5 separate regions of the Homo sapiens genome follow, and all the other regions are linked to region 2. Evidence: fine-mapped expression QTL. A gene starts in region 2. Each other region holds a variant in brackets. All regions are shown on one strand. Distances are between the middles of the regions.

What was found. PIP is the estimated chance that this variant, and not a neighbour inherited with it, causes the effect.
Region 1: its variant is fine-mapped to the expression of PAPSS1 in whole blood (INTERVAL, PIP 0.97).
Region 3: its variant is fine-mapped to the expression of PAPSS1 in whole blood (INTERVAL, PIP 0.98).
Region 4: its variant is fine-mapped to the expression of PAPSS1 in whole blood (INTERVAL, PIP above 0.99).
Region 5: its variant is fine-mapped to the expression of PAPSS1 in B cells (CEDAR, PIP 0.95).

Annotation. Positions count from the first base shown.
Region 1 is chr4:108,599,842-108,604,976 of GRCh38, reverse strand. All of the region lies in intron 1 of RPL34-DT (RPL34 divergent transcript), which reads left to right. Among named protein-coding and RNA genes, the nearest start is that of RPL34-DT, 18 kb to the left of the region's middle. The variant A/G (reference allele first, on the strand shown) is at 3,106.
Region 2 is chr4:107,718,357-107,723,470 of GRCh38, reverse strand. It overlaps PAPSS1 (3'-phosphoadenosine 5'-phosphosulfate synthase 1), which reads left to right and starts at 3,237. Exons shown (of 12, transcript NM_005443.5): 1 at 3,237-3,351. The coding sequence starts at 3,292. RefSeq lists enhancers at 1,785-1,934, 3,925-3,984 and a silencer at 3,045-3,294.
Region 3 is chr4:107,740,812-107,745,946 of GRCh38, reverse strand. No RefSeq gene overlaps it. Among named protein-coding and RNA genes, the nearest start is that of PAPSS1, 23 kb to the right of the region's middle. The variant A/C (reference allele first, on the strand shown) is at 2,524.
Region 4 is chr4:107,692,293-107,697,292 of GRCh38, reverse strand. PAPSS1 (3'-phosphoadenosine 5'-phosphosulfate synthase 1) reads left to right here. Exons shown (of 12, transcript NM_005443.5): 3 at 3,287-3,522. Among named protein-coding and RNA genes, the nearest start is that of PAPSS1, 25 kb to the left of the region's middle. The variant CA/A (reference allele first, on the strand shown) is at 2,769.
Region 5 is chr4:108,573,288-108,578,422 of GRCh38, reverse strand. The region is part of intron 1 of RPL34-DT (RPL34 divergent transcript); the gene reads left to right. Among named protein-coding and RNA genes, the nearest start is that of RPL34-DT, 45 kb to the left of the region's middle. The variant C/A (reference allele first, on the strand shown) is at 2,868.

The sequences.
Region 1 (5,135 bases), 880 kb before region 2:
TTTTTTTTTTTTAATAGAGGCGGGGTTTCACCATGTTAGCCAGGCTGGTCTTGAACTTGTGACCTAAGGTAATCCACCCGCCTTGGCCTCCCAAAGTGCTGGGAATGCAGATGTGAGCCACCATGCCCGGCTGACATTGTCTCTTATATCACATCATCCATTTTAAAGCTAAAGAAAAGTACTTGTAATTTTTTAAATTGTTAATCAATTGATCTTTGATACTGTATCGTTGGAAAGTTCTTGTAATCTATGGGCCATTTTTTAATGGCTTAGTTGAAGGTCTTTCACTTTTTGTAAAATATCTTCTTTAGTCTTTTTCTCATAATTTTCTAGCAAAATTTCCACAACTGAAATAATTTGTTTTACTATCTGACTTAAAATGACTTTCATTTTTCATCCCTCCCTTTCCCCTCCCTCCCTCCCTCCCTCCCTCCCTTCCTTCCTTCCTTCCTTCCTTCCTTTTCTGTTTCCTTCCTCCCCTCCCTCCTTTCTTTCTGTAAGAATCCAACACATCTTTTAGCTGTCTAAAATTACAAGCTCAGGGGCCAGGTGCGGTGGCTTATGCCTGTAATCCCAGCATTTTGGGAGGCTGAGGTGGGCAAATCAACTGAGGTCAGGAGTTTGAAACCAGCCTGACCAACATGGCAAAATCTCATCTCTACCAAAAAATACAAAAAAATTAACCAGGCCTGGTGGCGTGCACCTGTAGTCCCAGCTACTTGGGAGGCTGAGGAATGAGAATCGCTTGAACCTGGGAGGCAGAGGTTGCAGTGAGCCAAGATCGTGCCACTGCACTCCAGCCTGGGCAACACAGCAAGACTCTGTCTTAAAAACATAAATAAAATAAAATTATAATCTCAGATCCTGTTAAGAAGCATTAAGGATTTTTTGGTCGTATATTCAACTCCTATTTTGAACTACAATTTTGATTTCTTTTTTGACTTCCAAGGGGAAATGTCTTACCAAATTCATTATGTATTTACTTAAAATGTCTCTTAATATTGTCTAATTTATTGCTTAAAATATTTTTTACACACAAATAGCTTTTTTCATTTTGCTGTGTTACAGCAAATTGCAATTTCCATTCATCGTAGAATTTGTGACATGCTTTCTTTCAGTCCTTTTCTTTTTTTTTTTTTCTTTTTTGAGACGGAGTCTTGCTCTGTCCCCCAGGCTGGAGTGTAGTGGTGCGATCTTGGCTCACTGCAAGCTCTGCCTCCCGGGTTCACGCCATTCTCCTGCCTCAGCCTCCCGAGTAGCTGGGACTACAGGCGCCCGCCACCACACCTGGGTAATTTTTTGTATTTTTAGTAGAGACGGGGTTTCACTGTGTTAGCCAGGATGGTCTCGATCTCCTGACCTCATGATCCACCCGTCTCGGCCTCCCAAAGTGCTGGGATTACAGGCGTGAGCCACTGCGCCCGGCATTTTTTTTTTTTTTTTTGAGACGGAGTCTTGCTCTGTCCCCCAGGCTGGGGTGCAATGGCACGATCTTGGCTCACTGCAACCTCTGCCTCCTGGGTTCAAGCGATTCTCCTGCCTCAGCCTCCTGAGTAGCTGAGATTACAGGCACCCGCTACCATGCCCGGTTAATTTTTGTGTTTTTAGTAGAGATGGGGTTTCACCATATTGGTCAGGCAGCTCTCGAACTCCTGACCTCAGGTGATCTGCCCGCCTCGGCCTCCCAAAGTGCTAAGATTACAGGCGTGAGCCACTGCACCCGGCCAGTCCTTTTCTTTTAATAGCCCAGTTGTAGTACTAGTTTCTGTATCTCCACTTTATTCTGCATTAGTGGTATGCATTCATTTTATATTTAAATTTGGTTCATTTTTAAGCTACACAGGAAGGGGAACATCACACTCTGGGGACTGTTGTGAGGTGGGGGGAGGGGGGAGGGTTAGCACGAGATATACCTAATGCTAAATGACGAGTTAATGGGTGCAGCACACCAGCATGGCACATGTATACATATGTAACTAACCCGCACATTGTGCACATGTACCCTGAAACTTAAAGTATAATAATAGTAATAATAATAATAATAAAAACAAAGAAAAAAATTAAAAAAATAAAATAAAAATGATTTTATTATGGTTACAATACTGGGTATTTAAATTTAATTTCTTCTCAGACGAAGGAAACTAAGAGAATTACCAGTTGACCTACCTTTAAAGAATGACTAAGGATATTCTTCAAAGGAAATGATAGCAGCAGGCATAGAACTTTAGAAAGAAAGAAAGAACAACGGAATGAGAAAAAATAGGGTAACTATAATAGAATATTTTTTATCTCTTATGTTTTAAAAATTATGTTTAATGGTTTAAATTTGTTTCCTATTGCAGCTCTAACAAGTCACTGCAAACACAAGGGCTTAAACAATACAAATGTATTATCTGATAGTTCTAGAGAGCAGAAGCACAAAATGAGTCTCACTAGGCTAAAATCAAGGTGTCAGCAGGGCTGCATTCCTTCTGGAGACTAGGGGAGACTGCATTTCCTTGTCTCTCCCATTTTCTAGAGGACAGCTGCTTTTGTTGGCTCATGGCACCTTTTTTCCACGTTCAAAGACAGCAGTGTTGGTTGAGTCCGTCTCACACTCACACTGCTACCTCTCTGGTTTTCTTTTTTGTCTCTCTCTCCCACACTTATGTCTGTCTGTCTGTCTGTCTGTCTGTCCGTCTGTACATTTGTGTGAGATGGGGTCTTGCTATATTGCCCAGAGTGGCCTGGAACTCCTTGGCTCAAGCAATCCTCTCACCTCATCCTCCCCAGTAGCTGGGACTCTGGGCATAGAACTGACTGCTCTTCCACTTTTATGAATCCTTACGACTATATTGGGCTCCCCTTGATAGTATAGAATAATCTCTCTTTTTAAAGTCAGCTGATTAGCAGCCTTAATTCCATCTGCTCCCTTACTTCTCCTTTGCCACATAACCTATTAACTGTTTTGGGTTATTAGGATGTGGACATCTTTGAGAGTGGGCATTATTCTGCCCATCACAGGATTAAAAAATTATAATACCAATTGGATGTGATATTCAATGTATGTGGAGGAAATACTTAAGACATTATGTTTAAGAGGTGGGGAGGGATAAATTGCTAGGG[A/G]ATTATGCTGAATTAAAAAAAAGCCACCTATAGGTTGTATACTGTGTGATTTCATCTTTCTAACATTTTGAAATGACGAAATTTTAGAAATGGATATATATTGCCAGGATAAATGGTTGCCAGAGGGTGGGGGCAGGGGAAGGTAGGAGGATGTGGTTATGAGAGCAACACAGAGGATCTTTGTGTTTTGGAACAGTTGAATATCTTGATTGTAGTAGTGGGTACATGACCTACATAGGTGATAACATTGTATAAAACAATATATAAACACATAATAAAAATAAAGACAAAAACAGAAAACAATATATAAACACACACACACACACAAATGAATACCAGTAAAATTAGAACATCTGAATATAATCAGTAGATTGCATCAATTTCAATATCCTGCCTTTTTATGATTATTTGATAATTTCTGAAGGGATGAGAAGTAATGGATTTAATTTGTACATTATTCCAAGTTTCTCTGCAGAATGCAGGATATTTTAGGATATTAGTCATCTTGTTAGTCTAGAATCTTAAAAAGTGGTTGGCAGAGGTGGGAGGGAGGTGGATGTGGGTGTAAAAGGCATCAGGTGGGCTCCCTGTCGTGTTGGAACTGTTTAGCATCTTGACTGTGGCAGTAGATACACAAACCTGCACAGAAGATAAAAATATATGGAACTTGGCCGGGTGTGGTGGCTCATGCTTGTAATCCCAGGACTTTGAGAGGCCAAGGTGGGTGGATCACCTGAGGTCAGGAGATCGAGAACAGCCTGGCCAACATGGTGAAACCTGTCTCTACTAAAAATACAAAAATTAGCCGGGTGTGGTGGTGGGAGCCTGTAATCCCAGCTGCTTGAGAGGCTGAGGCAGGGGAATGGCTTGAACCCGGGAGGCAGAGGTTGTAGTGACCCGAGATTGTGCCACAGCACTCCAGCCTGGGCAACAGAGGGAGACTCTATCTCAAAAAAAAAAAAAATATATATATATATATATACACACACACACACACACACACACGTATATATACACATATACATATATATAATATATATATGGAACTTAATACATCACACACATGCAAATGATTCCAATGGGAAATCTGAATATGATCTGTGGATTGTATCAATGTCAGTATCCTAGTTATACTGTTATGATACAGTTTTTTAAAGTTTTACCATTGAGGAAAACTGGAATCAGCATATAAGGAATCTATCTCTGTTATTTCTTACAACTGCATGTGAATCTACAATTAGCAGAACAAACATTTCAATTTAAAAAAGTGAAAGAGTGAAAGGACCTAATGGAAGTAAGGTTTCTACACTCAAAGTGGTAAAATGTCAACGCTGTTAGACTGTGATAAATTATGCAAGTATATTGTAATACCTAGGGAAACCATTAAGAAAACTATTCAAAGAAATATACTCAAAAAACTATAAAGTCAAAATGTAATTCTAAAACATTTTCAAGTGACCCACAGAAAGGTGAGAAAGGGGAAACAGAGGAATGAAAAACAGAGGGAACAAACAGTAAACAATTAATAAAATAGCCAACTTAAGCCCAGCACACCAATCATTACTTTCAATATAACTAATCTAAATACGCCAATTAAAAGGCAGAGATTGGCAGGATGGATAAGTTTAATTATGAAGGATGGTTTAAGTAGGTATCACTATAACTCTTGTTGTTTGCACAAAATATTCAAATAAACACATTGCAGTGTTACATAGTTCACAGAAAAAAATCATTCAAACCAAATCAGTCCATTGGTACTGGCTACATTGGTGATGTTTTTATGTATAATACATAAGAAATAATACATAAGAATATGTTATGTATAATACATAAGAATATTATGTATAACACATAAGAAATAATGTATGTATAATATATATAATGTATAAGAAAAATGTGTACTATAATAAAACAATAACAATATCTTAACATAAGTTAAAGTAAAACGTACATTTACCAAAATGCTGCTTCAGTTTTAAATTTAAATTAAATGGAGTGAAATGAAATGAAAAATTCATTTCTAGCTGCAT
Region 2 (5,114 bases):
TACACTTGTACTAAGAAAATATCTTCATTTTATTTCCTTTTCCTTTATCATGTGATATGAGATTCACTGACTTCATATCAGCATTTAAGTATTGTTAACTTTATGTAATAGTATGTGAGTTGGGGACTGCATTTCCAGTTGTACAAAGGACAGTTCAGTTATGTTAGACATAATTATGACCTTATTATTGTCTTATTTGAAGATTATGAATGATCTCAGGAGATGTGTATGGGTTCAAGTTGTCAAGGGGTGGACTTGTGATGGTTAATACTGAGGGTCAACTTGATTGGATTGAAAGATGCAATATTGATCATTGTCAGGTTGTTACCCAAGGAGATTAACATTTGAGTCAGTGGGCTGGGGAAGGCAGATCCACCCTTAATTGAGTTGGCACCACCTAAACCGCTAACAGGGAATATAAAGCAGGCAGAAAAACGTGAAGAGGCAAGATAGGCCTAGCCTCCCAGCCTACATCTTTCTCTTGTGCTGGATGCTTCCTGCCCTTGAACATCGGACTCCAAGTTGTTCAGTTTTGGGACTTAGACTGGCTCTCCTTGCTCCTCAGCTTGCAGGCAGCCTATTGTAGGACCTTGTGATTGTGTAAGTTAATACTTAATAAACTCCCATTCATATGTATATATCCTATTAGTTCTGTCCCTCTAAGGGAACCCTGACTAATACAGAGGATCATTGTCTTTATCCATTATTTCAGTAGAAAATGAAAAGTGGTGATATTAAAATGATATCATTTCTTCTTTATTTATTAGTGGTACTTCTGTAAAGAGAAACTTCTCTTTATCAATTTTTTGGGTCCCAGACAGTCCAGGGAAAGCAGAGTAAATGCTTAATTCATCCCCTTTATTTACCAGTTTTCAAAATAATGAGTTGGTTTCCTAGCATTCTCTAAGAGTGACAATAATTTTTTTTAAAATCATCATCATTACAAACACCTAGATTTAAACATATTTGATATGTTTTAATATTTTGTAGTTCTAGTCCATTTAGTGCTTTAATTCTCCCATCTTTGACATGGAAAAATTTCTTTAAATTGGTTTCTGAGTCCTTTTGACATAATCCGAGTAGCTTTTGACAGTTTTTTGTTATGTTTCCTGTTTGATGTTTCTGGCTCATTTGCATGACCCATATCTGGAATCATGAATTTGGATGGACAGTATCAATGTAAACTTATGATATATTTTACCTTAAAAAAAGTCTTTTACTAGAAATAAGGTCAAACTCACAGCAGTGAGCACTCCTAGAGCCAGATCGTTATATCTAAATACCATTTCCCTCTAATAAGAACCAGAACTCAGAGCAATGGCTAACTTCAGATGTGGCCCTATTTTCTCATATGAAGCTTGAGATCTTCTTCCAAGCTCATTCCTGTTATTGGCAGAATTTGAAATTATATTGAAATTCAGTTCTATGTATGAACCCCAGATTGAAAATTCCCTAGAAAAAAAGCTGAAGGGAACCATTCACATTTTAAGTAGTCAAGTAACAAGATCAGATTTCTGTTTCAGAAATACCGCTCTGACAGCAGGTGCAAGAATGGGGTGTGTGGCGGGGATGTGGAGAGCGGCTGCACAGCTGGGAGGATGTCCAGTGAACGGGCTTAATGATAACTCAGGCTGGATATAGGGGAGGCCTAATTTAAGACAGTAGCAGTGGGGCAAATAGATGGAGGGCTGATTTGCTAGTCACTAACAGGCAGCAGCCTCAGGTCTTGGTGATGGGGGCTGATTTGCTAGTCACTAACAGGCAGCAGCAGCAGCCTCAGGTCTTGGTGATGGGGGCTAATTTGCTAGTCACTAACAGGCAGCAGTCTCAGGTCTTGGTGATGGGCGGGGTCAGGGGCGGAGGGCGGCTGTGTCACAGGGGGGCAGAGCTGCAAGCAACTCTTTTGGTGCCAGGGGCAAGCTGCGGAAAAGAGAACTCAGAGTTATGGGGGGTGTGGGGAAGATAACTCCTGGAGGAAACTCTGTCATGCCCCCAGCCCATCCTCCTACGAACTAGCCCTGGAATAATTAGGTGAATTTGAAAATGTCCTCCGTAGGCGGGAGTTCTATTCGGGGTTACCTGCGGCCTCCCCGGTCCTGGATTTCAGTCCTCTAGGTATTTCCTGAGTAGCTCTTAATAATACAGAAGCCCCTTTCCGGTGTAGGTCGGTAAGAAGCACTGCACAGAAATCTGATGCGAAGTGGGGTCTCCTAGCGGAGAGGGAGGCACCTTATAAGTAATCACTAATCCAGGTTGAGATATTAATTATTGATGTCAAGAAATCGGGCTTTTATTATATCTTTTTAAAAACTGTGTCTTGAGGCCAGGCGCTGTCGCTCACGCCTGGAATCCCAGCACTTTGGGAAGCTGAGGCGGGCGGATCATGAGGTCAGGAATTCGAGACCAGCCTGGCCAACATAGTGAAACCCCGTCTCTACTAAAAATACAAAAATTAGCCGGGCGTGGTGGCACACGCCTGTAGTCCCAGCTACTCGGGAGGCTGAGGCAGGAGAATCGCTTGAACCCGGGAGGCAGAGGTTGCGGTGAGCCGAGATCCTACTACTGCACTCCAGCCTGGGCGACAGAGCAAGACTCCGTCTCAAAAAAAGAAAAAAAATTGTGTCTTGAGTAGAATTTTAATGTGGAGAATGAGCTGTTCGGTAAATCAATTCTTCCCTTTGCAAAGCTGTAAAACATTTAAAACATTTGGCCAGGGTGACATGGGCACAGAAGGGGCAGACAGGAGGTCGGCAGCCAGGTCTGTGGAGGAGTAGCCACAGGTGCAAGAGGCCGCGTCAGCGTCCTCCCAATCAGCCTCTGCTGAGGGAGTGCCGCGCGCGGCGAGCCGCGCACTCCCCTTGCCTTTCTCCCGGCGGCTGGTACTCGCTCTTAGAGATCTGCGTTAGCTCAGAGCTAGGCTCGGTGCCGCAGAGGCACCTGAGGTTCCACGACTGCATTCCAGGCCCCGCCCCTTCATCGGGATCTGGAAGGAGGAGCGCCGTGCGCGCCCGCGCCGGCGCGAGCGCTGAAGCTCCGCCCCCAGCTTCTACCTCCGGTTCTATCCCGGCGTTTCGCCCTTCCCCACAGACCTCTGCCCCGGACCCATTTCCGAGGCGCGCCGCATGCGCCGCGCAACCCAGGCCACGAGCACGGGCGCGTGCTTAAGTCAGCGCGCGCCCGCTCCGACGCGAGGAGGCCCCGCCCTCCAGCCCCGCCCCGCTCGCTGGCCTGCCCTCCTCTTGCTACCCTCCCGGCGCAGAGAACCCCGGCTGCTCAGCGCGCTCCGCGGTCATGGAGATCCCCGGGAGCCTGTGCAAGAAAGTCAAACTGAGCAATAACGCGCAGAACTGGGTAAGCTGGGGACGAAGGCGAGACGGCGAGGAGCGGAGGGGCTGTGGGAGCAGCTCGTTCCGGAGCCGCCGCCTCTCTCCCGCCTCCTCCGCATCCATCCTTCCAGGAGCGCGGAGGTGGGTTCCGGGGCTGCGGCGCCTCCCGGCTGGGGCCGTGGGTGGTTGCGAGGCAGAGGGGCGCGGCGCAGGGTGGGGATCTCGCCCTAGCTTGGCGCAGCGTGCGGTCCGAGCCACCGTTCGTGGGAAGAACGCCCCCCCTCCCCAGCGCCTCCGCTCAGGTAAGACCCCCAGGAAAATCCTTCACCCGTGAACTGGCGCTTGCTGAAACCTCCGGGTGCTGAAACCTGCGGCTGCAGAAACAGGAGCTTCCTGCATACCTTGGAGTGGCCTGAAGATGTGCAGAGAAGGCGGAGGCGGGCGCCTTCGACGCGTTCTTGGTTTTTCTTGGCTCTGCCAGTGCGGTTGGCCCAGGTTTGGGTCCATCTCCGTGTCTTTCCATTTCTGAGTTTCAGTGTGAAAGGAGAGTACCCAACAATGTGGTCATTCATGAGTTGAGACTGCCCTGAACTGAGGTTCTTTGTGTCTCTGTGTTAAATCGGAATGTTTAACAAGTAGGAGTTTGGAAGACTCCATTCCTGGTGACAGTCAGGTATGGGACCAGTCCTTTATAACGTTTAGTAATGACTGCCAGTTGACTTTGTAAAGTGCTGTGTCCTCATAACGTTGCTTACTTCCTTAATTTCTCTGTGATGAGAAAGAGCCTTATCTTCCTTTGTAAGTGTGCAGCAGGGAAGGGCCCATCTTTGGAGTCTGGAAAGGCACTGGTTTAAGTTTAGACGGAAACGTTATTTCACAGTCCAATGGAATAATAAGGTTTAAATGCAATGTCTCCCAAAACGTTACTTGCCCTAGATGAATCAAAGAAAAAAAAAACAAGCAATTTCAGGCAAATGTTCTTTGGAAGTCATTAATTTACCACATCTGTTGTTATTGTTATCATGAGTTGTTTACTGATTCCTCTCTCCTTTTATTTAACTCTATAGATGGTAAGGAGGGGAAGGAGATTTAAAAGATGAATTAGAACAGTGGAAAGAGCGCTGGACTCCTGGCCTGGTCTCTCATCCCAGCTTTGCCATTTACTAGCTGTGTGATCTTGAGGAGAGTCACTTTACTTTTTCGAACCTCAGTTGACTTAAGGGTATAATAGTATGTACTTCACGGGATTGTTTTGATGAACAAAGAAGACAGATCATGAATTTGAATGTGCGGTGAAACCACTGCCTTGAAACTCAGACTCAGTTTCGCTTCTCTTACCTTAAGGTGTTTCACGGTTAGGGAAATAAGGTTGGCTTACTTGGGGTATTTACAGATGATTTCTGTTACATTGTCCATTTATGTACTCATTTATTTATTAACATTTGCCACATGGTGCGTATTCTATGTAGAGACTTGTGCTAGACATGGTGGTGAAAAATGTGGGACTTACTGCTTGCCTTCTGGTAGTTCATGGTTTGTGTTGGGGTTGTGACATTTGCCAAGTGGTGAATATGTCTTTGTGGTCCAGAGTGAGTGGCGTAAGACAGAAGTTTTATTGCAATTTAGAGGAGAGATTAGTTTCGCCTGGGCGTTTTGGGAGGGTTTATGGAGGATTTCAGATTTCTGAGTCAGAGGGGAACTGCATGGATAAGTGTTGGGAATAAAAATTACTATTTTTTTTACTCCAGAAACATTGACGAAACTTGTTTGACTGCCCTGGAGAGTTTT
Region 3 (5,135 bases), 22 kb before region 2:
AAATTATTACTATAAAAAGTATAGTTACTTTACTATACTTTTTACTATAAAAAGTAATAGTATTAAAAAAGGCAACTTCAACTTCTAGGCAGATAAAGAAAGTAGCAGGGATGGGACATACACTTCACCTGAAACAACTAAAATAACCTCAACACAATACTCTGTGGAACAGTGGTTTTCAGACTTTGGATAACAGGCAGTGAAGAACAGTGATCCTTGAGAGATGAGAAAACAAATGAGGTAAGCCCTATAATTGCCCCAGCTTACTAACTGCAGAGAGTTTCCAGGCTATTGCGATGGGAGGAGGAGCCTAGACAAAAACCAGCAGTTACGCTGAGTTAAGGATATGAAGCTGGGGTCCAAGAGATAGGGCAAATTACCAGCGAAGAGGGAGCTACCACAGAGAGAGCTCCGGAGATTATAGAAAGGCCACCTGAACACAGACAAGTGAGAAAACTAATGTAGGCCAGAGAAAACACCACCTAAAAGGAGCAGAGGGAAAATGTCGGAGCTCACACCCAGCAGAAAGAGTTTGTGTTCCCACCAGCCAGAGCGGAAAACTTTGGCATTGGGCAAAGTACTCAAGACGGTGTTCTGAGTAATAGAGAAAAATTAACCCTAAACAAAAAGCTGCTAAAAACAAGATGTGAATGAATCAAACTATTTCCAAGTAACTTAACTGTGACCCAGAACACAGCTCAAGAATTTTTTTTAATAGAGTACAGAAATATGCAGTACTCAACAAGGTAAAATTCACAATGTCAGAGGCTTAATAACTAGGAGGAAAGAAGAGAACAAAAAGAAAAAGGTATGAATGAGAAAAATGAATCAATACAAAAAGAAGTAAACATATATAATTAATAGATAATGACATTAAAATAGTTATATTTCATAAATTCAAAAGGATGGGGGAAGATTGTTCATGTTAAATAGAGGTATGAAAGATATTTTCTAAAAGACCCAAGTTGAACTTCTAGAGATAAAAAATAAAATGTCTGAGATGGGATATATAATTTTAAAAACATAATAAGAGAATGAACTGAATAAAACAAAGACAAAATATCTAATCAGACCCTTAACCAAAGAAGATATGTAGATAGGAAATCAGCACATGAAAAGATGTTCAACATCATCAATTATTAGGGAAGTGCAAATTAAAACCACAGTGAGAAACTGTTGCATATGACTACAGTGAGTAAAAAGACCAACCATATCAAGTGTTGGTGAGGATGTGGAGCAATTACAGCTCTTATATGTCACTGTGAGGAATGTTAAATTGTACAACCACTTTGGAAAGCAGTTCTGGCAGTTTCTACAAAAATTAAACATACACCTATCATATGGCCCAGTGATTCCTCTCCTAGGTTTACCCAGGGAAAAGAAAGCCTATGTCCACACAAAGATTTGTATATGAATGTTCATGGCAATTCTATTTGCAATAGCCCCAAACTGAAATGACCCAAATGTCCATCAAAAGATGAAAGAATAAACAAATCATGGTATATCCATAAAAATGCTATTCAGCAATAAAATGGAGTGAACTACTGATACACATGAAAACGCTGGATGAATCTCATAATAATTATGCTAAAAGAAGCCAGGGAAAAGAATACATGCTGCATCTCATTACTTACTACTCAGTTACTTTAACATATAGAAATTATTAATATTAAGACAATGTTTTACATAGAGTAAGGGGTACAAAGACCATTTGTGGTTTTGATTAAATTACTATTCTCAGATATTACTGGCACCTAAATTAAGAACCTGTAATAATTTTAGAGCAGAAAGAACATCCTGAGATAAATTTATCCACCTCCAGCCCTTATCTTACAGATGAGAAAGCTGAGGTTCATGAAGTTACATGGTTTACTCAAGGCCACATAATTGGTAGAAACCTAGAATTCTAGGAAGTTATTTCCACTCACTGTGAAGAGCTCCTTTAAATTACAGGCAAGCCATAATTTAATAATATAATTTTTAATAACCTGGACTTATAAAATTCATTATTTGGGGGCTTTTTTTCTAAGGAAAAAAGTGACTATGTTAACCACAAGGAAATGCTTCAGATGAAATTAATAAGTGATATTTCAAGGTTTCTTTAAGCCCTATTCCTCTTACCATGCTTTTATTCGAGTAAATTTCCTTGGTGGAGAAGGTATACCTTCACAGTTTTGCTGAGTCATTGGTAAAATGAAACTGCTTGACTAGAGGGGTAATTTTCTCAGACTGACCTAGAAATCTTCTGGCAAGTCCCAGAGACTTGAATGGGTAGGCCCCATCTCCTATTCCATCACTTTGGGCATGGGGTAGGATTTCAACATGTGAATCCTAAGGTGACACAAACATTCAGACCTTAGAAGCATTAGTTATTGGTTTCTCACAATAGAAAGTGAAAATTTATTTCTCTTCTCCTACCAGCACCACCACACACATACTTATTCTCATATCCCTTCAACTTTTCCATCTAGTTATATTGCAATCTTGTTAAGGTTTATATTCATAGTTTACATTATCATGACT[A/C]TGTATGATTTAGAACTGAGCTATGTAGTAAAACCATCATTACTTTTGCTTGTAGCATAATATTTTTCCTCTGAATGTTTGTGTGTACATATACACATGTGTGTACATATGCATAGTTTTCCTTGTGGAATTCTTTGTTGTTTTTTCTCTTCTTAAAAAATAGTAACTTCTTGTGTTAAAAAAAGAGAAACATTACAGAAATATACACATGCTATTTTTTTTGTTTTAAGGAATACTTCATGGGCAGTATAGGAAACACTGCTGGTGCCTACCCATTTTCCCTTAATTCCTACTATCATGGCAAATATCATTCTGACTTCCACCTGTGAATAGTTCCATTTCTTTGCATGAGGGCTTCCTTTGGGACCAGTGTCTTCTTGACCTATGTGCATGCAATCCAAAAATATGAGGGAATGAATATTTCCTGAGAGTAGTCCTTGACTAACAACTGAAGAGTGTTGCATAAATACCCCAACTCCCTCTCCTCTTAGGTAATATACTCTGAGGCATATGTTCAATGCTGTTTCTTAGTGTTCCCTAGTGGGATTAAGCTTCAGTTTCCCATGATGTCTTTTTTTTGAGACGGTGTCTTGCTTGGCCCAGGCTGGAGTGCAGTGGCATGAACATGGCTCACTGCAACCTCCACCTCCCGGGTTTAAGCAATTCTCCTGCCTCAGCCTCCCGAGTAGCTGGGACTACAGGTGTGCACCACCACGCCCAGCCAATTTTTGCATATTTTGTAGAGAGGGGGTTTCTTCATGTTGGCTAAGTTGGTCTCCAACTTCTGGGCTCAAGCAACTTCTGGGCTCAAGCAATCCACCTCCCAAAGTGTTGGGATTACAGGCCTGAACCACCACGTCTGGCCCTAGGATGCCTCTTTGATGAAACACTATTGGTTTCCTTCCTGTCCCTGTAACACTTTCCTGCTCCACTAGATCCACTAGGATCACCTCCCAAACAAATTATTGTACTAGAATCCTTCTCCCTAGGCCTGCTTCTTAAACAACCCAAACTAAGACAATTAATGCTGAGCACAGCTAATTATGTCACATTATAAGGCACAAGATATTTAGCATCTCAGTTTTAGAGATGCTAAGATTGATCAGTGGATGCAGGTGGTGTCAGCCTGATCCCCTCATTATAAAATTCTCTTTCCTACCTTTCACCTAATACTTTTTAGCACTCACTGATGATCATTGCCTATATCTGTTAATATTACTTCATAAGGTATTTTAAATGGCGTTTTTTAAATCCAGTATTTTTCAAAAAATTAGCCAGGCATGGTGGCAGGCACCTGTAGTCCCAGCTACTCAGGAGGCTGAGGCAGGAGAATGGTATGAACCTGGGAGGCAGAGCTTGCAGTGAGCCAAGATCACGCCACTGCACTCCAGCCTGGGCAACGGAGCGAGACTCTGTCTCAAAAATAAATAAATAAATAAATAAATAAAATAAATAAATAAAAATAATAAATCCAGTATTTTTTCTGCATTAGCTAAAATTCTTCTGTCAGTACAAACTTTTCCTTTATCAACTGTTTGATTCCCCTGAAAAACAGTTTGTACAGAGAGGGTAGGACAAATGTGTCCTTTTTGATGACTTTAAGTAGTTATCACGAATTTAACCCTGAACTATTTCCTGTTGTCTGAATCATTTTTAATATAATTATTCCTAGTGGATACTCTATCAATTTCATTTTTTTCAAACAAGGTCTCTGAGGGCTTCTGACCTCTCTGAGAGCCATCTCACTGATCACCCTCTAGACCTGGGACACACAGTCATCCTGGGATTCCCTTCCATCAGTCTGGTGATTCCCTTCAGTTGTCTCCAGTGTAAAAATTCTTGTTTTCTGAATGCCATGTTTTCTCCTTTCATTTTCTGTGGAACATGTTCCTGGAACCAAGCCAGGTCTGGCTGCGTTTTCTCGTGGCCCAGTAACGGGAAGCAGACAAACTAGGGAAGAATGGAATTTATTGCTGTAACTGGATACAGGGAGAAGGCCGGAGATAATTCCACCAGACCAACTCAGAGTGTTACAATTTTCTTAGTGCTTATATAGGTTGGGGTTATGTGCCTACATGCAGTATAGCGTTTGCCTAAGCCTATTGGTAACTAATTTTGCTTCGACTAGAAGATCAGAGACAAAAATGCTTGCTAAGTCTGATTAAAAGGGCCCAGTACCTTCAAGGCCTGTCTACTGTGGTACAACAGTGATGACTTCTATCTTATCTCCCTTACAGCTTGGTCTGGAGATCTGCCTTAGGCGCTCCAATGAATTTATTCAAACAGCTGCCTCTCATGCCTTGACTCATCTCAGATTTCATCGACCCGAGATGGGTCCTGGCACTAGAAATGCAAGACTGTCTCTTTATTTTGGTTTGCTCTAGGTTACGGAGAAGCCCATGCAAGGCTCCTACTGACCATACGTTTCATTTCTAGCTTTGATGTCTGGGCACTGATTTCCCTAGGTTTAACTATTTGCTCAATGTTAAGGCAGCTCTGTGGAACTTAGTCTGTGTAACTGAAGTGCTACGCAGGCCTGTCTGTGTGATTGTCATACAGACTTTTCTGTGTGATTGTCAAGGAGAATTGGGCTGCCAGAATCCCCACTGTCA
Region 4 (5,000 bases), 26 kb after region 2:
GATTTAAAAGGGCTCAGATAGGCAGCTATGCTTAGGGCTTGCTTGGTTGTTGTCATGCTGGCCTGGGCCACAGTCATCTGAAGTTTCAGCTGGGCAGGATGTCCAAGATGACTTACTCAGATGCTGCTGGTTGTCAGCTGGGAGCTTAGCGGGCTGAGAGTGGCTGGTACACCTGCTTGGGATCACGTTAGCATGGTGGTCTCAAGGGATTTAGTCACTGGCTTCTCCCAAATTAAGTGACCAAAGAAAAGCTGCATAGCATTTTGTGACCTAGCCTTGGTAGTCACACATCATCGTGTCACTATTTCACTACATTCTTTTGGCTGCAGGTAAGTCCTAAGGCCAGCCCACATTTTAGGGCAGGGAATTAGTACCTCTTGATGTGACAGTAGTAAAGTCACATTGTAGACACTTGTAGGATGGGATATTCAGTTGCAGCCATCTTTGGAAAATGCAGCTGGCTACAGTCATTAATATCGGTTTTTAATGTATAAAGCAACTGACACTGTATCGATGCTCTCAACATATCCTCCTCTTCTTTTTTTTTTAAATTTTTCTTTAAGGTCTGGGATACATGTGTAGAACGTGCAGTTTGTTACATGCTTGTGGCACGGTGGTTTGCTGCACCTGTTAACCCATCATCTGGGTTTTAAGCCCCACATGCATTAGCTATTTATCCTGATGCTTTCCCTCCCCTACCTACCCCCACTGGGAGGCCTCCACCTCCCCACCGATAGGCCCTAGTGTATGTTGTTCCCCTCCATGTCCATGTGTTCAGCTCCCGCTTATGAGAGAGAACATGCAGTGTTTGGTGTTCTGTTCCTGTGTTAGTTTGCCGAGGATGATGGCTTCCAGCTCCGTCCATGTCCCTGCAGACGACATGATCTCATTCCTTTTTATGGCTGCATAGTATTCCATGGTGTATATGTACCACATTTTCTTTATCCAGGCTATCATTGATGGGCATTTGGGTTGGTTTCATGTTTTTGCTATTGTAAATAGTGCTGCAATAAACATACATGTGCGTGTATCTTTATAGTAGAATGATTTATATTCCTTTGGGTATATACCCAATAATGGGATTGCTGGGTCAAATGGTATTTTCTGGTACTAGGTCCTTGAGGAAGCACCACACTGTCTTCCACAATGGTTGAACTAATTTACATTTCCTACCAACAGTTTAAAAGCGTTCCTATTTCTCCATAGCCTCTCCAGCATCTGTTGTTTCTTGACTTTTTAGTAATAGCCATTCTGACTGGCATGAGATGATATCTCATTGTGGTTTTGATTTGCATTTCTCTAATGATCAGTGATGTTGAGCTTTTTTTCATGTTTGTTGGCCACCTAAGTGTCTTCTTTTGAGAAGTGTCTGTTCATATCCTTTGCCCACTTTTTGATGGGGTTGTTTATTTCTTCTGTATTAAGTTCCTTGTAGATTCTGGATATTAGACCTTTGTCAGATGGGTAGATTGCAAAAATTTTCTCCACATATGCAAATCAGTAAATGTAATCCATCACATAAACAGAACCAATAACAAAAACCACATGATTATCTCAATAGACACAGGAAGGGCCTTTGATAAAATTCAACATCTATGTTAAAAACTCTCAATAAACTAGGTATTGATGGAACATATCTCAAAATAATAAGAGCTATTCATGACAAACCCATAGCCAATATCATACTGAATGGACAAAAGCCGGAAGCATTCCCTTTGAAAACCGGCACAAGACAAGGATGCTGTCTCTCACCACTCCTAGTCAACATAATATTGGAAGTTCTGGCCAGGGCGATCAGGCAAGAAAAAGAAATAAAGGGTGTTCAAATAGAAAGAAAGGAAGTCAAATTGTCCCTGTTTGCAGATAACATGATTCTATGTTTAGAAAGCCCCATAGTCTCAGCCCCAAAACTCCTTAAGCTGATAAATAATTTCAGCAAAGTCTCAGGATACAAAATCAATGTGCAAAAATCAAGCATTCTTCTACACCAACAATAGACAAGCAGAGAGCCAAATCATGAATAAACTCCCATTCACAATTGCTACAAAGAGAGTAAAATACCTGGGAATACAACTTGCAAGGGACGTGAAGGACCTCTTCAAGGAGAACTACAAACCACTGCTGAAGGAAATAATAGAGGACACAAACAAATGGAAAAACATTCCAGCCTCATGGATAGGAAGAATCAGTATCGTGAAAATGGCCATACTGCCCAAAGTAATCTATGTATTCAATGCTATTCCCATCAGACTACCATTTGATATTCTTACAGAATTAGAAAAAAACTACTTTAAATTTCATATGGAACCAAAAAAAAGCCCTCTCTTCTATTTTTTTTTTTATTCCAGTTAGCCTTCTGTACTACCATGAATTCTTTCAAGAGCATTGGTACATTAGACTTTAGTATTTTATCTCTTGTTTTAGAACTATCTTGGTTATGACACTCGCCAAGTTGGCAAGTAATAGTGCATAAATGTACTCTTTCCTTCTCTTTGTTTACTGAGTAAATACTGTTGGTATAGGAAGGTGAGTTGAAATGAGGGTGTTCTATTAAAATTAATTATATTATAAATTGGACTCCCAGATAATTGTATCAAGGTGGTTTGTGAGTGCTGATGATCTAGGAAAATGGAGGTACCTTTGTAACATTTCTTTCTTTTGTCCTTTCTTTTTCTTCCCTCACCAGAAATAATTTGGGCATATGACTTTGTTTTAAAATTTGGCATGCAGCTTTAGAAAAGTGGTAACGAGAGGACAAAGTGAATTCC[CA/A]ACCATGTCTGCTAATAAAATTAGTTAAGCCTTTCTGAAGTTTATCAGTGATTTCTGATACGTTTGCTCATAGATATTTCATTAAAACAAACACTTATTATGTTTAAACTGTAGGTGTTTTCCTAGGCAAGAGGTAAATCTTAAAGAGAAATATTAGATAAGAACATTACTGAGAGATTGCTTTGCATAATGAATGTATTTAATCCTGTGATTGCAATTTTTTATATCTCTTGAGCCAGGAGTTTGAGACCAGCTGGCGCAACATATTGAGAATTCTGTCTCTACAAATAATAAAATAAGTTGGATGTGGTGGCATGTGCCTGTTGTCCTAGCTATTTGGAAGGCTGAGGCATGATCTCTTGAGTCCAGGAGTTTGAGGCTGCAGTGAGCTATGCAGCCTCTGCACTCCAGCCTGGGTGGCAGAGCAAGACTCTTGTTTCTGGGAAAAAAAAAGTATTACTACATAGTTATCCTTCTAACTTTACACATGGAATCTGTTTGGACTGTTTAATTTTAGGCTTGTCTGGAGCGGGAAAGACTACTGTGAGCATGGCCTTGGAGGAGTACCTGGTTTGTCATGGTATTCCATGCTACACTCTGGATGGTGACAATATTCGTCAAGGTCTCAATAAAAATCTTGGCTTTAGTCCTGAAGACAGAGAAGAGAATGTTCGACGCATCGCAGAAGTTGCTAAACTGTTTGCAGATGCTGGCTTAGTGTGCATCACAAGTTTCATATCACCTTACACTCAGGTATGTGGTTTTTGTGCCATTGCCTTTCTGCTTACATTTATTGAGAATATGGTATCAGGCAAAGCACATACTTTAAACATTGATATGTGCTTTGAGGCTAACTCTACTCCTCCCCAGCTACCATCTCTTTGTTCCTGTAACATAGGATTAAAATAACCTAAAACATTTCTATGCTGTGACTTTCTAAGTAAATCTGGTTTTGATAAAACCTGCTTTTAAAAAAGCCGTGAAGTATAACACAGTCATTGAATTTAAGCCAATGGCCAAATTATTTCAGGCTCAACTTTTCAACTTAATAAAACTATAGTGAATACTTGACAGATGTCAAACTCCGGAGAAAATCTAACTTTCTTAACATGTGCCCTACCATGGCTTCTTTGCTCAGAATTCGTTGTTCTTAGCTTGCATCATAGTTCCTCTTATTTTAGAGACTGCAGCAACAACAAACCATGTTTGTGTATTTCTCTGAAAAAATTATGTCATTTCTTATCTCAGGATTTTTGTTTCCTCCCTGCCTGGAAAGCACTCTTCTCCCTCCTGTTCCTGTTTTCACAGTGTCAGCTGACTTCCAGTTATAGATGGAGACTTAGGTTAGGTACCTTAACACATTATTTTATTTTCTTCAACTTTTATTTTAAGATCAGGGCTACATGTGCAGGTTTGTTAAATTGGTAAACGTGTGCCATGGTGATTTGCTACACAGATCATCCCATCACCTAGGTATTAAGCCCAGCATCCATTAGCTATTCTTCCTGATGTTCTCCCTCCCCAACCACAACAGTCATCAGTGTGTGTTGTTTCCCCCCATGTGTCCGTGTGTTCTCATTATTCAGCTCCCACTTATAAGTGAGAACATATAGTGTTTGATTTTCTGTTTCTGTGTTAGTTTGCTGAGGTTAGTGGCTTCCAACTCCATCCATGTCCCTGCAAAGGACATGATATCATTCCTTTTTTAGCTACATAGTATTCCATGATATATATATATATATATACACACCGTGTTTTCTTTATCCAGTCTATCGTTGATGGGCATTTAGGTTGATTCTATGTCTTTGCTACTGTGAATAGTGTTGCAGTGAACATACTCATGCATGTATCTTTGTAATAGAGTGACTTATACTCATTTGGGTATATACTCAGTACTGGGATTGCTGGGTCAAATGGTATTTCTGCCTCAAGATCTTTGAGGATTCACTGCACTGTCTTCCACAATGGTTGAACTAACTTACATTCTCACCTACAATGTAAAAGCATTTCTTTTTCTCCACGAGCTCACCAGCATCTATTGTTTCCTGATTTTCTAATAACAGCCATTCTGACGAGTGTGAGATGGTATCTCATTGTGGTTTTCGTTTGCATTTATCTAATGATCAGTGATGTTGAGCTTTTTTTCATGTTTGTTGGCTGCATGTATGTCTTCTTAAGAGAAGTGTCTGTTCATACCCTTTGCCCACTTTTTAATGTTTTTTTCTTGTAAA
Region 5 (5,135 bases), 850 kb before region 2:
AGATTATTCTGTGAAAAACAAAGACTTAACAGAATGAGATTTTTTTTCTTTTTTTTTTTTTTGAGACGGAGTCTCTCTCTGTCACCCAGACTGGAGTCACTGGAGTGCAGTGGCATGATATCAGCTCACTTCAACCTCCGCCTCCCAGATTCAAGCGATTCTCCTGCCTCAGTGTCCCAAGTAGCTGGGATTATAGGCACGCACCACCACACCCAGCTAATTTTTGTATTTTTAGTAGAGGTGGGGTTTCTCCATGTTGGCCAGGCTGATCTCGAACTCCTGACCTCAGGTGATCCGCCTGCCTCGGCATCCCAAACTGCTAGGATTACAGGCTTAAGCCACCGCTGCTGGCCCAGAATGAGAATTTTATGAATGAATGTGCTTTCAAATCTTATAATATGAGAAAAATGGAGCTTTAAAAAATAAACCTCATTGGTAGAATTCAGATGACTTTTGGAACACAAACTGAAAGCTACTTATTAAATAAGGGTAATTTGTTCTGGGTCCACACCATAAAATGGCTTCAAACATTTTTAAAATAGGTCATTTGAATACTCTAAAATGTCTGGTGTATGGTAACATTCTTAAGCAAGTTCATATGAGAGTTAGAGAGTATCCCAAAAGCATCCTTGGGATTTCTGACCATATCAAAGCAAATGGAACTACATTATCAAGGAGCTCTAATGAGACAGTTTGTTTAATTGAAATGCTTTAAATTACCATGTAGTACAGCATGAAAAAATCATTATTTTCATTAGCTGAACTATTTCTGTTAGCCCCAAACTAAAGGTTCTAATATTGAAGCATGATAAATGCACTGTAAAGCCAGTAGATCACAAGGAGAAATTTAAATGAAAGAATTCATCTAAAATACCAACATTTTGCCTTAAACATTACACGTAGGTGTCAATATCCTATCACTGACTCTCCCAAGCCAGAGGAAGTATTAACTAGAAATAAGCCCCATCTATACAAATAAAAAACTAATAATTGTGGCATCACCATTTAGTTACTTTGTCTTAATAGGCAACACAGCTCTTCTATCAACACATGGGTATAGTGGGTTGCTTTAGACACAGTCCACTTAAGAGTTTTCCTTTGACTTTTTTTTTTTTTTTTTGAGATGGAGTCTTGCTCTTATCATCCAGGCTGGAGTTCAATGCGCGAGCTTGGCTCACTGCAACCTCTGCCTCCTGGTTCAAGTGATTCTCCTGCCCCAGCCCCCTGAGTAGCTGGGATTACAGGTGCCTGCCACCATGCCTGGCTAATTTTTTGCATTTTTAGTAGAGGTGGGGTTTCACCATGTTGGTCAGGCTGGTCTCAAACTCCTGACCTCAGGTGATCCACCCGCTTTGGACTCCCAAAGTGCTGGGATTACAGGCGTCAGCCACCGCACCTGGCCCCTTTGACGATTTTATTATGGACGATAAATTTGTTTTATTTTGTTTTGTTTTTTTCTTGAGATGAAGTCTAGCTTTGTTGCCCAGGCTGGAGTGCAGTGGTGTAATCTTGGCTCACTGCAACCTCCTCTTCCCAGGCTCAAGCGATTCTCCTGCCTCAGCCTCCCAAGTAGCTGGAATTACAGGCGTGCACCACCACACCTGGCTAATTTTTGTATTTTTATTAGAGACAGGGTTTAGCCATGTTGGCCAGGCTGGTCTTGAACTCCTGACCCCAAGTGATCCACCCTCCTTGGCCTCCCAAAGTGTTGGGATTACAGGTGTGAGCCACCGTACCTGGCCATAAATTTGTTTTGACTTAAGAAGAACCCACCTATAGTAAAGAGGAGAATATTCATATAGCATTTGCCTTGATCACCTTTCTATGGAGAAAAACTGGCTAACAGTGAAATTCCAGAATTAAATCTCCCATTCAGTTAAAATATGATCTATCTCAACAGGAACCACAGAGAGTGCCCCTCACTCATCTGATATCTGATATTCTGTAGCATAAGTTAGATCAAGAAGGCTTCCTGGGAATGGGTAGGATGTGAAAGAAGATGCAGAACAGAGAGGGCCTGAATCTCCTTGGTAGGCAAACCTGATGTCACTTAAGGGTACAGTTTCCATTAATAGTAGATTAGCTCAATCTTAAGAAGAAAAAGAATAAGGTTCAACTTGGATGACTGTGAAGTGATTTAAGATAGTTTTTTTTTTTTTTTCTTTTTGAGACAGAGTCTCACTCCATCGCCCAGGCTGGAGTGCAGTGGCATGATCTTGGCTCACTGCAACCTCCACCTCCCCGGTTCAAGCCATTCTTCTGCCTCAGCCTCTGGAGTAGCTGGGACTACAGATGCACACTACCATGACCGGCTAATTTTTGTATTTTTAGTAGAGATGAGTTTTCACCATGTTGCCCAGGCTGGTCTCGAACTCCTGTTCTCAAGTGATCCGTCTGCCTTGGCCTCCTAAAGTGCTGGGATCACAGGCATGAGCCACCGCACCCAGCCTAAGATGGGTATTTAAAATGTTGACTATTAGCAATAGAAAATACTCTTTGCTTTTTGAATGATAAGGAGGTTTGAATTATTTGCTTTTGTTTTGTGCAAAGAAATAATTATAATGAGAAAATTTCCTTTTTCATGGGTTAGGTATATGGAGGCATATGGAGGCAGTAAATCTTGAAGATTTTTTCTTTTATTTTTCTGTAATTTTTGTGTCATGTAAATTTTGCTGATCTCTTGTGATTCATAATTAAATGGGTTAGATGCCATTCCACTAATAATCATTACCAATAAAGAAGTTCAAGAGTTTCTCCAGTTTCATACAAGGAGTAGCTATGGACAAGGAGAATTGGATCCAGGAACTTTGTTTCATTAGTTTTCTTACACCTCTGACATATTTTGTACTCTCTCTCTCTCTCTCTCT[C/A]TCTATATATATATATGTATAAAACATATATATAAATATATAACATATATGTGTATATATGTTATATACATATATATATATATAAAGTGTTCTCTTTTAGGAATCCTGGAAGATTCCTAAAATCCTAAAATCTCTTTTAGGCATCCTGGAAGATTTCATATATATATATATAAAGGGTTCTCTTTTAGGAATCCTGGAAGAACTCCTCCCAGATAAAAAGCATTACTGTATTAATAGATGATGTAAACTTTTTTTCTGAGGTGTCATAAAGTAGAAAGTTGAATATTCCAGCTTTTTTTTTTTTTTTTTAAAAAGGGAAACTTGAATGCTTTGATCATTAGTCCCTTGAGTCTCATTCTTGTTTGGAGTTTTATTTTCCCATTCCTGATCCAGTCTGATGTTCTTTGTCTGCAATTCAATCTCTATTGCTTTAATCATTTTGGATTGTACCAATGCCTTCTCAGTAATAAAAGAAATGGGGAGCCAGGCTTGGCATGGGACAAGTCTCTTCAGCTGCAGTAAGACATTACGTATGAGTTGTCTACCCACAAAAGGGCCCACTGTCAGGTTAAATTAATGAGCTGCATGTTTTAATCATTAAGGTAATAGCAATATGTGGATTATTTGCCTAAGTTTTAATCATTTCTGTTTTCACCAACTAGGTCATCAAACGCTTTCTTTTAAGAAATCTTTCTATTTCATAGCAGAGAATAGCTTCTATGTGGGACAGAAATAAATGCTTCAGAGTCCTAAAACACTAAACAGCTCCAGGGTTTGGTAAAATTTAGTTATGCCTTTGTCCGTCAACACAGGAATTTGGAGGGACTGGCCGTGGTCACCATTAGCAAATGGAACCAGCATGAGTTCCAATTTGCAAAGAGTTGAAGTAGAATAGGGGAATTTTAGGTCTCAGCAGCTGAGGTGGAAATGAATTATTTTGTGGACCATGGGCAGCACTGAGACCGGGTGAGTTGAAAGAGATACTGCTGACTATGCCTGCAGGGGATCTGATGGCTTTGCTTCCACTGGAAATTGCTTTGTACAGACTTTCAACTCACAGTCTGGTATCTGCATGGCAAATGTTGGCAAGAGGACTTGCTGTTCTCAGGAAAGTCCACAGTAAGTAGATCAAGACACAACTTCTACAGCTGATTTTTCTAATAAAGCCATGCTTCCGAAAAGGAGGGATGAGTTTTAGCACCATTTTCATTTCTTCTTAGATATTTAGGCTATACCCAAGTGAAACCTAGAGCATAGGGTCAAAAAGAGAAAAATCCAACTTATTACTTATATCGTTGGGGTAATGCCAAGCACACGACTCAATTGATTTTTGATCGAATTTGCTAAATTAAAACAATCATTTTATGAACTCTGTGATAGTACTGTCCAATGTGTTACCACAGCATTTGTTCGTAACTCAAACATAGCTCTTCCTATACGTGTTATAGTGAATTACACCATTTAGCTATGTGCTTCCAGAGGTCAGGGACAGTAACATATTCATCTGTGTGTCCTCACGTCTTTATACAGAGTTGATGATCATAGAACATAATTGACAGTGTAGGAATCAATGGAGAGTTTCTGCTTTCCTTTCTGGAAACTGTGGTGTGGTGGGAAACCAAAGGATATAGGGGGTGGGTTTAGAAATATAGAATTACAGATGAGAAGGGCTCTCAGAGATCACATAATTCAACACTTTCATTTTACGGATGAAGAAAGTGAGGTCCAGAGAGTTTAATGACTTTTCAAGGTCAATTAGTTGGTGGCAGAGCCAGAATGGAGGTGACACTGGAACTAGCATTTACCAGAAGCTGCTATAGACTGGGCATTGTGCTTAACCTGTGCTGTCTGATTCATCCATTCTTCTGTCCTTTTTTTTTTTTTCTTGAGACGGTGTCTTGCTCTGTCACCCAGGCTGGAGTGCAGTGGCGCCATCTCGGCTCACTGCAACCTCCACCTTCTGAGTTCAAGCGATTCTCCTGTCTCAGCCTCCCAAGTAGCTGGGATTACAGGTGCCCACCACCACACCTGGCTAATTTTTGTATTTTTAGTAGACATGGGCTTTCACCTTTTGGCCCAGGCTGGTCTCAAACTCCTTGACTTCAAGTGATCCGCCTGCCTCGGCCTCCCAAAGTACTGGGATTACAAGAGTGAGCCACCGCGCCCAGCCTCTTCTATTCTTTTTTACTGATTTATCCATTTTCCATGTGTTTGGAAAAGGACTAACATTATTTATTTTGAAACTAAATCATTTGGAAAAAATATTAA